2 linked regions of the Homo sapiens genome follow. The protein of the gene in region 1 purifies or fractionates together with the protein of each later gene. This does not show direct contact. Each region holds a gene or a part of one and is shown in the gene's direction. Other genes may lie near its edges.

Region 1 (7,238 bases):
GCATCCAAGATAGCTTTCATCTGGGGACCTTATGAGGTAGTATAGGGCATTTCACTATATTACTGTCACCACAAAATTAATAATTAATATTTATTCATCATTTTTATGTGCCAGGTGACTTATGGTAAGGAGCATAGATACATTATATCATTCGACCCTTACTTTCCCCTTTTTAAACAAGAAGAAACTGAGGCTTGGTCCCTTAGCTAGTATTTGCCAAAACAGGAAGTCAACCCCATGTCTTTGTGACTCTGGAAGCTGAGCATTTACCCATTAGACTATGTTGAGAGAAAATCCCTCCTTGTTGAAGCCTGTAAACATGGGACCTGAGGGAAGGACAGTGGAAGCCCCTGCCTTCAGATGCCATCAGAGGAGGGAAGGCCACAGGTTGGAGGGCTTGTCCTCTTACACATCCTCCTCAACTCCACCCCTAGTAAGAAACCCAGGCAAGACTAAAGAAGGGAATTCTGGTTTCTCATATTTCCTGTTTAGTTCTTTGCAGATTGGTGATAAAGCAAGGGCTGGGGTGGGTTTGGGGGTAGGTGACTGCGACTTTGGAGCAAATTCCACAGGCCAGGCCTCCAAGGTCAAAGTAAGGGGACTTCTATGTGAGTGACCCGGTTAGCCCAGATAGCCATCCCTTTTTAGTGTGTGGATGGGAGCCTAAAGCGAGAAGACCATCTCTGCACCACATGGTCCAGATGGGGCTCTGGGTTGAGAGGCTTTATACTGGCCTTCTTCACCACCTTAGGACTCACAACTTCCTTTTGCTGTCTGTTATTTTTTCTAGGTCTCCAGAGGCTTGTGGAAGAGAAGCAGGCGACCCTTCCTGAGTTATCCTGGCTTAGCCTCCCAATCTGGCTCCCCTTCCCCTTCCCATTCCCCTGCTCCCCCTGTCCCTTCCCCATCCACCCAACTGAACTGGGTATAGGTCAAAGCTCCTCTCCTTCCTTTTCCTTCCTAGGCACTCATTGGCTAGGACCTGTTTGCTCTTTTTTTTGTGCCCAGAGATACTGGAACACGCTTCATCTAAGTAACTGTGGGGAGGGGTCTTTTTGACTCTACAAGTCCTTGAGCAAAAAGCTGAAAAAGAAGCAGGAGGTGGAGAAGACCCAGTGAAGTGCCCCAAGCCCCATCATGGAAGAGGGCTTCCGAGACCGGGCAGCTTTCATCCGTGGGGCCAAAGACATTGCTAAGGAAGTCAAAAAGCATGCGGCCAAGAAGGTGGTGAAGGGCCTGGACAGAGTCCAGGACGAATATTCCCGAAGATCGTACTCCCGCTTTGAGGAGGAGGATGATGATGATGACTTCCCTGCTCCCAGTGATGGTTATTACCGAGGAGAAGGGACCCAGGATGAGGAGGAAGGTGGTGCATCCAGTGATGCTACTGAGGGCCATGACGAGGATGATGAGATCTATGAAGGGGAATATCAGGGCATTCCCCGGGCAGAGTCTGGGGGCAAAGGCGAGCGGATGGCAGATGGGGCGCCCCTGGCTGGAGTAAGGGGGGGCTTGAGTGATGGGGAGGGTCCCCCTGGGGGCCGGGGGGAGGCACAACGACGGAAAGAACGAGAAGAACTGGCCCAACAGTATGAAGCCATCCTACGGGAGTGTGGCCACGGCCGCTTCCAGTGGACACTGTATTTTGTGCTTGGTCTGGCGCTGATGGCTGACGGTGTGGAGGTCTTTGTGGTGGGCTTCGTGCTGCCCAGCGCTGAGAAAGACATGTGCCTGTCCGACTCCAACAAAGGCATGCTAGGTAAGACATGGGGGGCTCCAGCCTTATCCCCTCAAACTCTGGAAACCTCCTTGCTCCTGGAAATTGCTCTTGTCCTTACCACTGGGTTCCCTAGGACCCTGCACCCAAGATGTTCCCAGAGGGCTCAGGGTTCCTCTGCACACTCTTCCCTCACACACTCCCTCTTCTTGGCCTTGGGTCAGGGTGAAGTTGAATGTGACAGAGGGGCTTGCGGGAGGGCAGCTGGACTGGGGCTTGGGCCAGTGGTTGGGTGGTGGTCTGCTTCATTCTGCAGGAGGTGGCTGTGGTAGGATGGTCCCTACCATTTAATGTTTCTTCATAGCTTTCCCTCTGGTTATCCTGTTCCCTTTCACTGATTGGGGAACAAGAAGCCAGTATCCAAACTCCTTGGTATAAATGGGGAGAGTCAGTTTGGGGTGGTTGGGGGAGGGGGGGAGGGTCCTGGATCTTCTGCCAGAGAAGCTGGTTAGACTTTCTCTCACTCAGATGGGAGTTTCCAGGGGACAGGATGTAGTCTTTGATGGCCTTTCCTGACAGGGACTCTGAGGAGGAACCCCGTAGACTCACAGAGAAAGAATCGAGGCCTTACTCTGCCACCAAATTGCCATGGGGTCTTGGACAGGTCTCTTCTTCCTGGGGCTTGGTTTGGGCATGGGAAAATGCAAAGTTTGGAGTAGATGATTTTAAAGATTAATTCCAGCTTTGGTTTTATGAAGGCAGTGAAAAACAGGAGAGTTTTTGGACCAGAAATATTGAGACTGGAAGGAGTAAAGGATGGATTTTGTGTGGGAGATTTCCTGGGAAGATGAAATGAATTGGAGCCCCTTTCCCCAGGAACAAATGAGAGCTCTCCTGCTGCTTTGAGGGATCAAAGCAGGGAGAATAGAGAGGACCCTGGGGTGGTCTGTGATCCTAGGCACACCCATTCCTCCTTCAAAGTGAGCCAGGGGTAAAGGTGTCACTGTGTGTGTGTCAGAGTGAGAAATGAGACAGACCGAAGAGAGTGGAGAGTTTGCAGGTTCTCCCATATCTTCATTCCTGCCTTTGAACCCCTGGCCTGCAGAGATGATCTTCTATCTTTGCTTACACCATTCATTTTCTCTCACTTGCTCTAATCTCTGGGTAGACTTACCTTCTAGAAGTTTTTCAGATCCTTCAGCTCCCTCAGTGCTCATCTCCTGGGAGAATTAAGGTGTGTCTGCTCACACCCCCTCTGCCTGTTTTCCTCCTCCTTCCAGGCCTCATCGTCTACCTGGGCATGATGGTGGGAGCCTTCCTCTGGGGAGGTCTGGCTGACCGGCTGGGTCGGAGGCAGTGTCTGCTCATCTCGCTCTCAGTCAACAGCGTCTTCGCCTTCTTCTCATCTTTTGTCCAGGGTTACGGCACTTTCCTCTTCTGCCGCCTACTTTCTGGGGTTGGGTGAGTGTACACTTCCTAAGTCCCTTGAGGGCAGGACTGTGCCTTGGTCACTGTTGTATCTTTAGGGCCCAGCACAGTGCCAGGCACACCAAATGCACCTTAAATCTGTGTGAGTTGAACGGATGAATGAGTTCCTTTCTCCCCCAGCCATCTTCAGGCCAGCTCCTCCCTGCCCAGGACCTGTCTGCTGCTGTCCAGAATGCTGTTCCTTGGCCCACTCCTGAGTCCTCCACCCCACCTCTAGTTCCATTTTTGAGCCTGCCTCCACAAAGAGGCCTAGTGGGCCTCAGCCCCACCCCTGGGCTCCTGTGGACCCAGAGTTACCCCCTACCAGAGTCTACACATTTCCTGCATTACACAACAAACCTTGCTAACACCCACACCTGCCAGAACCCTGACGCCTTGTCCGCACTGCCCCTTCACTTTTGCAAGCATGGCAGGCCCGCTTACTCTGCTTCAACTCCAAGCTCCTTTCTGGCCATTCCCACAACATCTGCCCTTGGAGGCTTTTGGCTTGTCTTTTTTCTCTGGAGATTTATTCTCTTTTCTGCAATTACTTTCCCGCCCTTCCAACTCTGTAATTCATTTTCAAGATTTAAGATTTGCTCTTTCCCTTTCCCTGAGACTCGCTTGCCTGTTTCCCATGGTCCCAAGGATGGGTGCTTGATGGCTGGCCCACATGGGAGCTTGTAAGGCTTTATGTGTGAGATGGAGTCTCTTCAAAAGCCTGGAAGACAAAAGGGGCTCGGGGTCCAGAGCAGTGGGGCAGGGGATCAGGACTATGGCCATTTGCTAATGCTGAATTCTTGAAATGCACTTCAGGATTGGAGGGTCCATCCCCATTGTCTTCTCCTATTTCTCCGAGTTTCTGGCCCAGGAGAAACGAGGGGAGCATTTGAGCTGGCTCTGCATGTTTTGGATGATTGGTGGCGTGTACGCAGCTGCTATGGCCTGGGCCATCATCCCCCACTATGGTGAGCAGCCCCCGGAAATCCACCCCAGGTTATCTCCCTCCTCCCTCTTCTTCTGTGCTCCCTGTGGTGGGTTCCCCCAGCCTCTGGCCTCTCTGCTGATGCTGTCACTTTCTCCCTACCAGGGTGGAGTTTTCAGATGGGTTCTGCCTACCAGTTCCACAGCTGGAGGGTCTTCGTCCTCGTCTGCGCCTTTCCTTCTGTGTTTGCCATTGGGGCTCTGACCACGCAGCCTGAGAGCCCCCGTTTCTTCCTAGAGGTGATGGGGCTGAGCTGCATGGGGTGGGGTGGGGTGCGGGCTGTGGAGTGTGGACGGCAGCAGGGGCTTCTGTGTTCAAACACCAACTGGAGTTTGATTTGATCCTGTTTGACTGCCTGCCTTCCTCACAGAGTCCACTCTCCAGGGGACTTTATCTTGCATTCTTTGCCTTGGAATGTGTCCCTGAGGGGTTCTTGGGTGGAGAAACCAGGGGACCTCTTTACCCATGGATGACTTAAGATTTTGCAGGGAAGGGCCTTGGCCCTGTCCTGCATTTACAGCTCAAGAGACATTCCCACCCCCTATACCTTCCCCTCCTAACCCCAGCAGGATTAGGTCTTTGACTACATGCTTGCCCATCATTTCCCTTACCTTTGGTTTTTACATTCCTCTGTACTATGGAATTCCCAAGACCTGTGCTTGCCTTTTTCCCCTGGACAACACTCCCCACCCCCAACCCGCAGCTCTTGCCCAAGTCTGATTGTCTTGCTATACCTCAGCTTGGGGCTCTTTCAGAGTGGTGAGTGCATGCCCATAGGTCAGGGCTTGGTGGTGGGGTTGAGGGCTGGGAACCATTTAGTGTCCTGTGACTACAGAAGCCAGGTGGGAGGGAGGGGGTCTATAACTCTGGGTCAGGTAGGGGCTGACTTGGATGTGGGGATTGTGTCTTTGGCTCTAGAATGGAAAGCATGATGAGGCCTGGATGGTGCTGAAGCAGGTCCATGATACCAACATGCGAGCCAAAGGACATCCTGAGCGAGTGTTCTCAGTAAGCCACAGCCCTCCCGACTCAGACCTCCACGCCCTGCAGCCCCAGCCCCTACCTGGCCCCTCTCTGAGTACCCCCCACCTCAGACCACACTCTACCGTAAGGAGATTTTCAGGGTATCATATCCACCTCCTGCCTCCCATTTTGCTAATGCAGGGGAAACTGAGGCGCCTGGCCGATGTTGGGAAACACAGAGTGTGTGACTGCCCACCCCTTCTCTTGACCCCAGGTAACCCACATTAAGACGATTCATCAGGAGGATGAATTGATTGAGATCCAGTCGGACACAGGGACCTGGTACCAGCGCTGGGGGGTCCGGGCCTTGAGCCTAGGGGGGCAGGTAATGGTGGACGGGGTGGTAGATAGAAGGGAGTGGGGGAAGTGGAGAAGAAGGCAGGACTGAAGTCTATGTGTGTGGGTGATGGGTGAGCTGAAGGGAGGTGGGAGGGCAGAAAAGTGGGGATCTATGGGTGCTAGAACTTAGTATAGTCAAGGTCTGACTTTGTCTGGTCCCCTGTAGGTTTGGGGGAATTTTCTCTCCTGTTTTGGTCCCGAATATCGGCGCATCACTCTGATGATGATGGGTGTGTGGTTCACCATGTCATTCAGGTGAGGAGATGGGTGGGCTGGGTGATGTGTGGTGGTTGTGGTGGTGTGTGGGCTGGGAGAGAGGTGGGGAGAATGGAGATGCAGGGGACAAGCGATGAGGGAAGGTGCCATGCAGACCCCCTCTGATCCTGCAGCCAGCTCCTCTACTTCGCTAGTTCACTCAACAAACTTGTACTGTAGGCTGACCAGGATTCAGTTTCTATTCTGTGCTGGGATGAAACAGATGTGGTCCAAGGTCCTCCTGGAGTTTATGTTTTGGTTAAGAAGCAGGACGATGAGGCTCGTAATCCCAGCACTTTGGGAGGACGAGGCGGGCGGATCATGAGGTTAGGAGATCGAGACCATCCTGGCTACGGTGAAACCCCGTCTCTACTAACATACAAAAAATTAGCCGGGCATGGTGGTGGGCGCCTGTAGTCCCAGCTACTCTGGAGGCTGAGGCAGGAGAATGGTGTGAATCCGGGAGGCAGAGGTTGCAGTGAGTCGAGATCGCGCCACTGCACTCCAGCCTGGGTGACAGAGCGAGACTCCGTCTCAAAAGAAAAAAAAGAAGTGAGACGAAACTTGCTATGAAGCAGGGTGATGAGAGAAGGGTGGGGGAAGGGCAGTGGGAGCACTTGGGGCTTGGGCTGGGGTGGGGACCTAAGTCCTCAAAGGTGAATGGGAGTCAGACAGGTGGAGTGGGGGTGGCTGGGGTGGAGAAGAGTGTTTTTGGCAGAGGGAAAAGCAAATGCTTGGGAGGTAAGAAAAAGTATAGTGGCTGCTGTGCGAGACCCTGAAGTCCCCCAGGAGCGCAGCAACTGTTGAAGGGAGGAGCAGGGAGAAGCTGGTGAGGCTGGAGAGGAGCAAGGTCCTAACAGAGGTTGACTCCATTTCTCCCTTGTTCTGAGATGATACACATTTCCGTTTTCTCCTCTGCCTGATTCTAATCTCTGAGCCTTGTCTGAAGCCCTGTTGTCTGTTTCCATTGTCCTTGACTCTTCAGCTACTATGGCCTGACCGTCTGGTTTCCTGACATGATCCGCCATCTCCAGGCAGTGGACTACGCATCCCGCACCAAAGTGTTCCCCGGGGAGCGCGTAGAGCATGTAACTTTTAACTTCACGTTGGAGAATCAGATCCACCGAGGCGGGCAGTACTTCAATGACAAGTATGTGGGGACTTTTAAACTTCACTTCTTCCCTGTTCCTTCTACCTCGTCTCTTTTATGAGTCTAGGGGTTCAAGACAAGACATTTGGGGGGCAAACACTTGTGGTTTCTTCTCAATGCCCAGCTTCCCATTACTTCGCTAAAGAGTGAGTCTTGGAGGGGGCATGAGGATGACGGGGGAGTGTCTTTCACCATCCTGGCCTTACAGGTTCATTGGGCTGCGGCTCAAGTCAGTGTCCTTTGAGGATTCCCTGTTTGAAGAGTGTTATTTTGAGGATGTCACATCCAGCAACACGTTTTTC
Region 2 (7,191 bases), on another chromosome or scaffold:
AAAAGCCCCTATCATTTGGGAGCTTCCTGTCTGATGGGAGAGACAATTTTAAAGATTAAGTCATTTACTGACTATATTAGATGGTAATAAGTGCCATCTCCACTTTATGGAGAAAAATAATGCAGGGGAGGAGGATGCAGAGGGTTGGAGATATGTTACGATTTTGAATAAGGTGGTCAGGGAAGGCTTAACTGAGAAGTAGCACTTGAGAGCTCAGGTATCACATAACTAGTTCATGCATTCAATACAATCAATGGTATTTATTGAGCACTTATTATATATGATGCATGATTCTAGGTCCTAGAGATAAACTGATGAACAAGAAAGCAAAGTCCTTCCTTCCATGCAGAGACAGACAACAAGCAAGGAGCCAAACAGGATAATGTTGGACAGTAATTCCTTACAATGAAGGACATGAACAAGGTAATGAGAGAGGTAATGAGGTTAGAGGGAGGTTGAGGGGAGAAGTGGCTAGGTTGGACAAGGTAGTTGGAGAAGGCCACTCTAAGTGACAGCAGGTGGACTCAAAGGAACCTGCTGTGCAAAGGTCTGGGGAAAGGCATTCAAGGTGGAGGGGATTAGAAGGGTAAAAACTGGGAGGTGGGAACAAGCAAGGCTAAGGTGTCTGGCATGGAGATAAAATGGTTCATGGAACAGAGCAAATCATATACGGTATGGAAACCCACGACTAAGGTCGGACTCAGGCAAAATTGTGAAACAGAAAAATGTTACAGTGACTCCCTTTCCTCTCTTTTTTCTGGACACCATTTCCTCCCCTACAGGTGCTTCTCTAGCCTCATTTCATCCCTAAGCTCTATCTCTTTCAAACTTGCTCTCAGAAAAGGATGTGACAGCTCATGTATACTTAAAAAATAATAAGGCTTAAAGGGAATTATTCCTCCTAAGGGCATTTAATCACAATGACTTTAATTATAACATTTGATGCATCAGCTATTTGGGTGTTGGAATATTTTATTGTTGGGGAGTATATTAATTTCCTATTGCTGATGTAACAAATTACTATAAATTTGGTGCCTTGAAATCACACACATTTATTATCTTACATTTCAGGAGATCAGAAGCTCAAAATGGCTCAGCAGGGCTGTGCTCCTTTTGGAGAATCCATTTCTTCCAGTTCCTAGAAGCTGTTCACATTCCTTGGCCTGTGGCCCTGTATCACTCTGATCTCTGCTTCTGTTGTCACATCACCTTCTCTAACTCTGACCCCCTGCCTCCCTCTAATAAGGACCTCGTGATTATCTTGAACCCACTTGGATAATTCAAGATTATCTCCTCATGTCACGATGCTTAACTGCATCTGCAAAGTCCCTTTTACCATATAAGGGGCAAATTCACAAGTTCTAGGCATTAGGATGTGAACATCTTTGGGGACTATTATTATTCCTACCACAGGGCATGACATTCTGGAGTCTATGAGTGGGGTCATTAGATGGCTCCCTATTTTCAGGTAGTTTCTGCTCATTATTTCTGTTGGAATTTTGGGAATGAAATAGTTCTGTAGTCTTTCTAAAGGGCCAATTGCCTAAGCTAGTTGGGCAGTTTTCCTCAATCTGATCTTGTAAAGCCAGATAAGACTGAATTTCATTGCACTTGTTTGTGCTTTTGAACACTTTTTTTTTTTTTTTTTTTAACCCACAGTGTTAATTCGAATGGCAGCTTCTGGGATGGGACTTAAACACTCTGCAGTTTCTGACCTCTGTGGAATTTGAAAAGCCAAAGGTCTAGTAAAGTAAAAATTAGCAGGAGCCTCAGTCAGGGACGTAAAGGAAGGACATTATTGCTAAACGAAAAGGTGAGGTGCTGTAATGAGTGTCACATGTGGAGTCAGTCTAGTGAGCGACTGTTTCCAGCTTTCTGATGCTTGGGGAAGCAGTACTGTTCCTGAACTTCCCAGCAGAGGGGGTCATAGAGCCCTGTGGGTTAATTTACCGTCTTTGAACTCCTATCCTCTCAAAGACTGGTCCTTGGTGGGAAATGAGGCAGATCAGTACTTTAATAAGATTGTGTATTAAGCCAGAGTCCATCACTGGTTCCTGCTCGTAAGGGCTTGTTATTTGAATTCTTCCCATCCACATAGCTCTATCTCATTCCCATTTCCTCCTTCATGTGTCTGCTTTTCTCAGCTACTTGCCGAGTGAGAATCTTTTCTAGTCACAGGGTCGCATTTTCAAAGGTCTGTTTGCCTTATTAATTTAATGGGTGTAGGTTCACCTCTACTTATCCCACGTTCACTTTTATAGTTTTTGATGTGTCCACTAAACTCAATATAGTGAGTTTATCAGGCATTCACCTGCTGAACTGCTATCATTAGCTAAAATAATAGTTTACAGGGATTTTTTTAAGCTAAATTGACTTTAATTTTCATTGTTACTTATATTGCATTAGATCTAAGTTAGACTTTGGAAGAATATGGGTTCTTCCACACTTAGAACTGTAAAGCATTATTTTAGAGGATGTTTATGTCGTTGACTTTGAATGAACATTGTCTAAATTGGAACAGGAGGTAGAAGAGTTCAGTGAGTGAGAGCCTGAGTTGGGGAACTGAAAGGATGGCTCTGGAGTGAGGATAGCCTTCGGCTCCAGTTTGGCTCTGTCAGTGCTACCTGTGTGATCTTGCGAGCAAGTCATGAAGCCCTGCCAAGCCTCAGTCTCCTCCTCTATCAAACTGGGATAGTAAGTGGTTACTGTTGTAGGAATATCAGGGTTGTGAGGAATAATCTATTGTCAAGTCAAGGCCTTAATACATGGCGGGCAGGTAATCAATATTTGTTGAATAAATGTCTCACGGTTAGAGTTCAGTTAACCTTAGCTATGCTGATGAGGATCTGTAAACATAAGGTTCAAAGCACTTATCTTTGGGTTATTATAGTTGGATAATAGGAGACCAAAACATCTAAGCAAGGGCAGTGTGTACTTGTCACCTTTATTTCATCAGACATAATGGGGTTTCTGCTAAGCATCAGACTTGCCAGCTGTTGAGGTGTGAGCTAGGTATCTTATAAAAAGTTCTAAGTATACATCTCCCAGTATATAATAAAACATTATTTAAAACCATTGTTAAAAACTGAAAAACAGTTGCAATAACACTGAACTTGTCTCTGGTTGCTGCCAGGAATAATGGTCACGGGTTTGCTAAGGCAGCGTAACAACTTCTGAAAGAAATTATTCCCAAAGACCTTATCACTCAATCTGAAATTAAGACATGCTGGATTTTTGCTTTTAAGTGACTCTGGAGGCATTTGTGTGGAGCAGAATAAAGCAGAAACCGACAGGCTGCATGACAAAGTTGGCAAGGGTATCTCTCTGTCAGCCCTGTAGGCTGCCTCGACCTGTCAGCACCACTGTTTAAAATTTCAGCTCCCTGAATCCCTGCATTGTAAGAATTTGGATCTTCTTGGGAAGTGGAGCCCAATGACGTGCAGCACACCGCGGAAGGGAAGAGGGCTTACCAGACCTTTGCTCTCCCACTGCCCATGCTTCTCGCTCAACCCGGTGCGAGACCTGACTTAGAGATTATTTCTTTCTCCAGGGCCCTGGACCCGTCCCCGCAACCCCCCGCCCCGTCTCACTGGCCCGGGTTCCGGGCTGGCCTGTGGAGAACCCCCGCGAGCGCACCGCACTCCAATGTAAAGCCAGCCACTGCCGGCCCGCTTCCCAGGTCGCTTTTCTCTGAAAACCGACCCCAGTGCCTCCGGCTTTACAATTTGAGTAAACTGGGTCATCAGCAACGGCAACGCAGACCCAAGCGACTATCGCCGTTCATTCAGAGACTGAAACGGGGAGACGAAGCGCGCGGGCGGGGAACGCTCACCCGGGCACCTCCCGGTACCTCGTCGTCGCCCCGCCCCGCAGCCTGTAGAGGGCGTGGCTAGAGGCCAGTCCGTGCCCCGCCCCTCCGGCCGCGCGCCAGCGGGCGGAAGTGACGTGTGCCCAGAGCCATTTCCGGCGGCCCGAAACTAGGAAGAAACTTGGAGCTGTTCAGGCGATCCAGCCTCCAATCGCTGCTGCTCTTGTACTCGGTTGGCCCGGGCGGCGCTGAACTGTCGGGAGCCTAGGCCATGGGGCAGCCTGGGCCTTCTGCAGTGTGAGGCGCGGGGCCTCCCGCGTCGCTCCGCTGACAGGCTGCGGGCGGGCAGGCGGGAGGCGTAGTGTGGGTCGCGGTGGCGGCCCCGGCCGCCGGCCCTGGCCGCGGCATCATGAACATAGACGTGGAGTTCCACATCCGGCACAACTACCCCTGGAACAAGTTGCCGGCCAACGTGAGACAGGTACGGCCGGAACCTGGGACCGGGCCCCTGACGGATTCGGCCCGCCCAGCGGTCACCTGCTTGCCTCGCTCGCGGGGCCCGAGCGGGCTGCTGCCGGCTGACTCCCTTCCTTTACTCCTCCGTGGTCTTGGGGAGACGGACCTTCAGCCCAGGGCGAGGAGGGGACGGCTGTGGGGCCACAGGGCCAGGACGGGGCGATCGCTAAATGGGATGGCATGGTGTCCACAGGACTCGACTGGCGCCTTTGCCCGCAGGATACATTCAGCCAGGCACCTGCGATAGAGATTTTAAACACGGTCCTTGACCTCCGGAATTTCAGGATGGTGGGAAAGGGATGGGAAACAAATGAATACGATACAGGATGATAGCAGCTCATACACACCTGCATTGTAGTATATGTGAGAGCAGAGGGAGGGAGAAATTATCCTGGGAGAGTTGGAAGGATTTTTAAGGCAGGCACTTAAATTGGGCCTTGGAGGACGAATAAGAGTTAAATAAGAGGGAATAAAGATTTTTCCAGGGGGAGGGAAAGTCATTTTACAAAGCTTGGATGAGTGAAAGAACATGTCTCATGAGTAGCAAGTGACTGTATCACCAGAGTTTGGACTGACATGTTTGGAGTTGAAGTTTTTTGAGTGCGCGGGGCTGGTAGCAGATGAGCCTGGAAAAGTGGTCAGGGCCAGATTTTGAAGGTGCTTGTGTGCTTTGTTTTGTTGGACTTTATCCTCCAGACAAGATGGGTTTATCAGAGATGTTTCAACAAGAGTGACATGAGGTTTTTGAAAGTTAATTCTCGATTTTTTTAGTCTGTTTTACTCAATTGTTTAATAGATATTTATTGACCACCTACTAGGTGCTGTGCGTTGCTCTAGGTGCAGGTAATTTGCAACAGTCAACAAGACAAAGACTGCCTTCATGGAGCTTACATTTTACTAAAGAAAGACGTAAACAAATAAATGAATAAATACGTAACATAGCAGATGGTTTTAAGTCTTACGAAAGTAGTGATATGGGCTACAGATAACGCACTGCTGCTCTGGTCATAGATTGACCTTCGCTTCCTCCCATTATACTTGGTCGAGAGTGAAATTCAGTTTTCTGTTGGCACTCGGCAGTGGCATTTTTGGGAAGTTTGGAATGGTGGCGGTGATGGTATATAAGGATTATTTATTTATTTTTATTTTTATTTTCATTTCTTTGAGACAGAGTCTCCTGTTGCCCAGGCTGGAGTGCAGTGGTGTGATCTCCGCTCACTGCAAACTCTGCTTCTTGGGTTCAAGCGATTCTCCTGCCTCAGCCTCCCGAGTAGCTGGTACTACAGGTGCGCGCCACCACGCCCAGCTAATTTTTGTATTTTTAGTAGAGACGGGGTTTCATCATGTTGGCCAGGCTGGTCTCGATATCTTGACCTCATGATCCGCCCGTCTCGGCCTTCCAAAGTGCTGGGATTACAGGCGTGAGCCACAGTGCCCAGCCAGTATGAGGATTGTTATAGTTTAGTTTACTTTGCTCCCTTCCTCCCTTGGGGATTTAGTGCCAGGAAGTGAATATTAAGGTTCTGGTCATGCATCATGTGGCCAAGAAAATGCTTTCACTTTAATATAGCAAAAACCGAGAAAGATAAATTTAAAGAACTTGAATTCTTGGGTGTCAGTGGCTGCCCGTGTGGCATTTATCTTAAACTGGGAGAACAAAGCTCTAAACCTGAAGGAATAAATTTCTTTTGTTAATCTTGAATAAAGGCTTTAAAGGACACTTTTGTACTTTAGGGTTTTGTGGCAAATCCAAAGACACAAGAAGAACAAACAGTTCTTCTTTTCTTTGTTTCCATTTTTTCTCTACTCTTTTCATCAGAATAAATGTAGCATACTGGAAGAAAGATGAGTGATGAGATTATATCCAACATGAATATTTGACTTTAATTAGTATTGGCAAAAGAGTTTCTAAAACGTAGTCATGACTATTTAAAAATAATCATGGGACAGTTAAAATTAGGTCTAAATGTGAAATTAAGTATGTTTTTGTTTTTAAAATCACTTGAAAAACAGTGGCTATTTTAGCTTAGGATAAGGTTGGCCATTTGTAGATGTTGCAAAACATCTGTACAAGTTTACTTCCAAGGACCTTCTCTAGCCTAATCACTGCTTCCCTAGGCCGAGCTCCATCTGAGATTACTACATCAGCCTTCTCTCTGGTCTCTTGCTCTTAGAATAGGACTTTCTCTGCATTCTTCATGCTACTCTGGGGGTGAGGCTTCTGAAATGCAAACCCAACCTTATTACTGCTGGTCTCCTTTATATTGCTTGTATTAATAGCATATTTTGATTCTCACTCTGATACTGCTCCTGGGAGGTTTCCCTGACCACCTAAATCTGTGGTGGTTGCCCCTAGGCTATCTTACCATTGCATTGTATTCCTCACCTGTCATAGAGCTTACCCCGCTATGGTGCATTTTGTGGTTACAATACTGGCTTTGCTTTTGTCCCATGAGCACCTCTCACATACTTGGCTTTTAGTATTTGTGGCTGAGCACCTAAAGCTCAGTCAGTTTAAACTTGGGGAATATTCCTTCTATGGAAAGAATTTGTCTTTTGGCATTATAGATTTTTAGACACTTCGATGTCGTTTCCAGTAAGTTTTGATGGGTTTACCTTGAAAATGACTCATTTTCCAGTTCTGTAAGCTAGGGGCAGGTGATTTAGATTTTTAAAAAATGTATTTTAAGCTAATTCATTTTTATGTGGATGAGAGGACATTTAAAAAAATGTGGTATGGGTCATGATAGACTTTTAAAAAATATATAAAAAATTGTGGATGGGGCCATTATTTCAGGATTTTTCTGTAGTTTACCACTATCTTGTATTCTTTATCCAAAATAATTAATAGCCCTTTTATTTTGAGG

What was found. Proteins that work in one complex are often made in the same cells at the same time.
Region 2: the proteins of SV2A (region 1) and FAM91A1 purify together in Homo sapiens (affinity purification with mass spectrometry; 2 studies listed by BioGRID and IntAct, with this or other methods). This does not show direct contact.

The regions. Positions count from the first base shown.
Region 1 is NC_000001.11:149,907,740-149,914,977, reverse strand, and holds part of SV2A (synaptic vesicle glycoprotein 2A), read left to right. Parts: intron 1-790; 5' UTR 791-1,137; coding exon 1,138-1,759; intron 1,760-2,997; coding exon 2,998-3,178; intron 3,179-4,000; coding exon 4,001-4,152; intron 4,153-4,274; coding exon 4,275-4,408; intron 4,409-5,087; coding exon 5,088-5,177; intron 5,178-5,406; coding exon 5,407-5,517; intron 5,518-5,697; coding exon 5,698-5,786; intron 5,787-6,771; coding exon 6,772-6,936; intron 6,937-7,144; coding exon 7,145-7,238. UniProt on the Homo sapiens protein: Plays a role in the control of regulated secretion in neural and endocrine cells, enhancing selectively low-frequency neurotransmission.
Region 2 is NC_000008.11:123,764,486-123,771,676, forward strand, and holds the start of FAM91A1 (protein FAM91A1), read left to right. Parts: upstream 1-3,953; 5' UTR 3,954-4,217; coding exon 4,218-4,289; intron 4,290-7,191. UniProt on the Homo sapiens protein: As component of the WDR11 complex acts together with TBC1D23 to facilitate the golgin-mediated capture of vesicles generated using AP-1.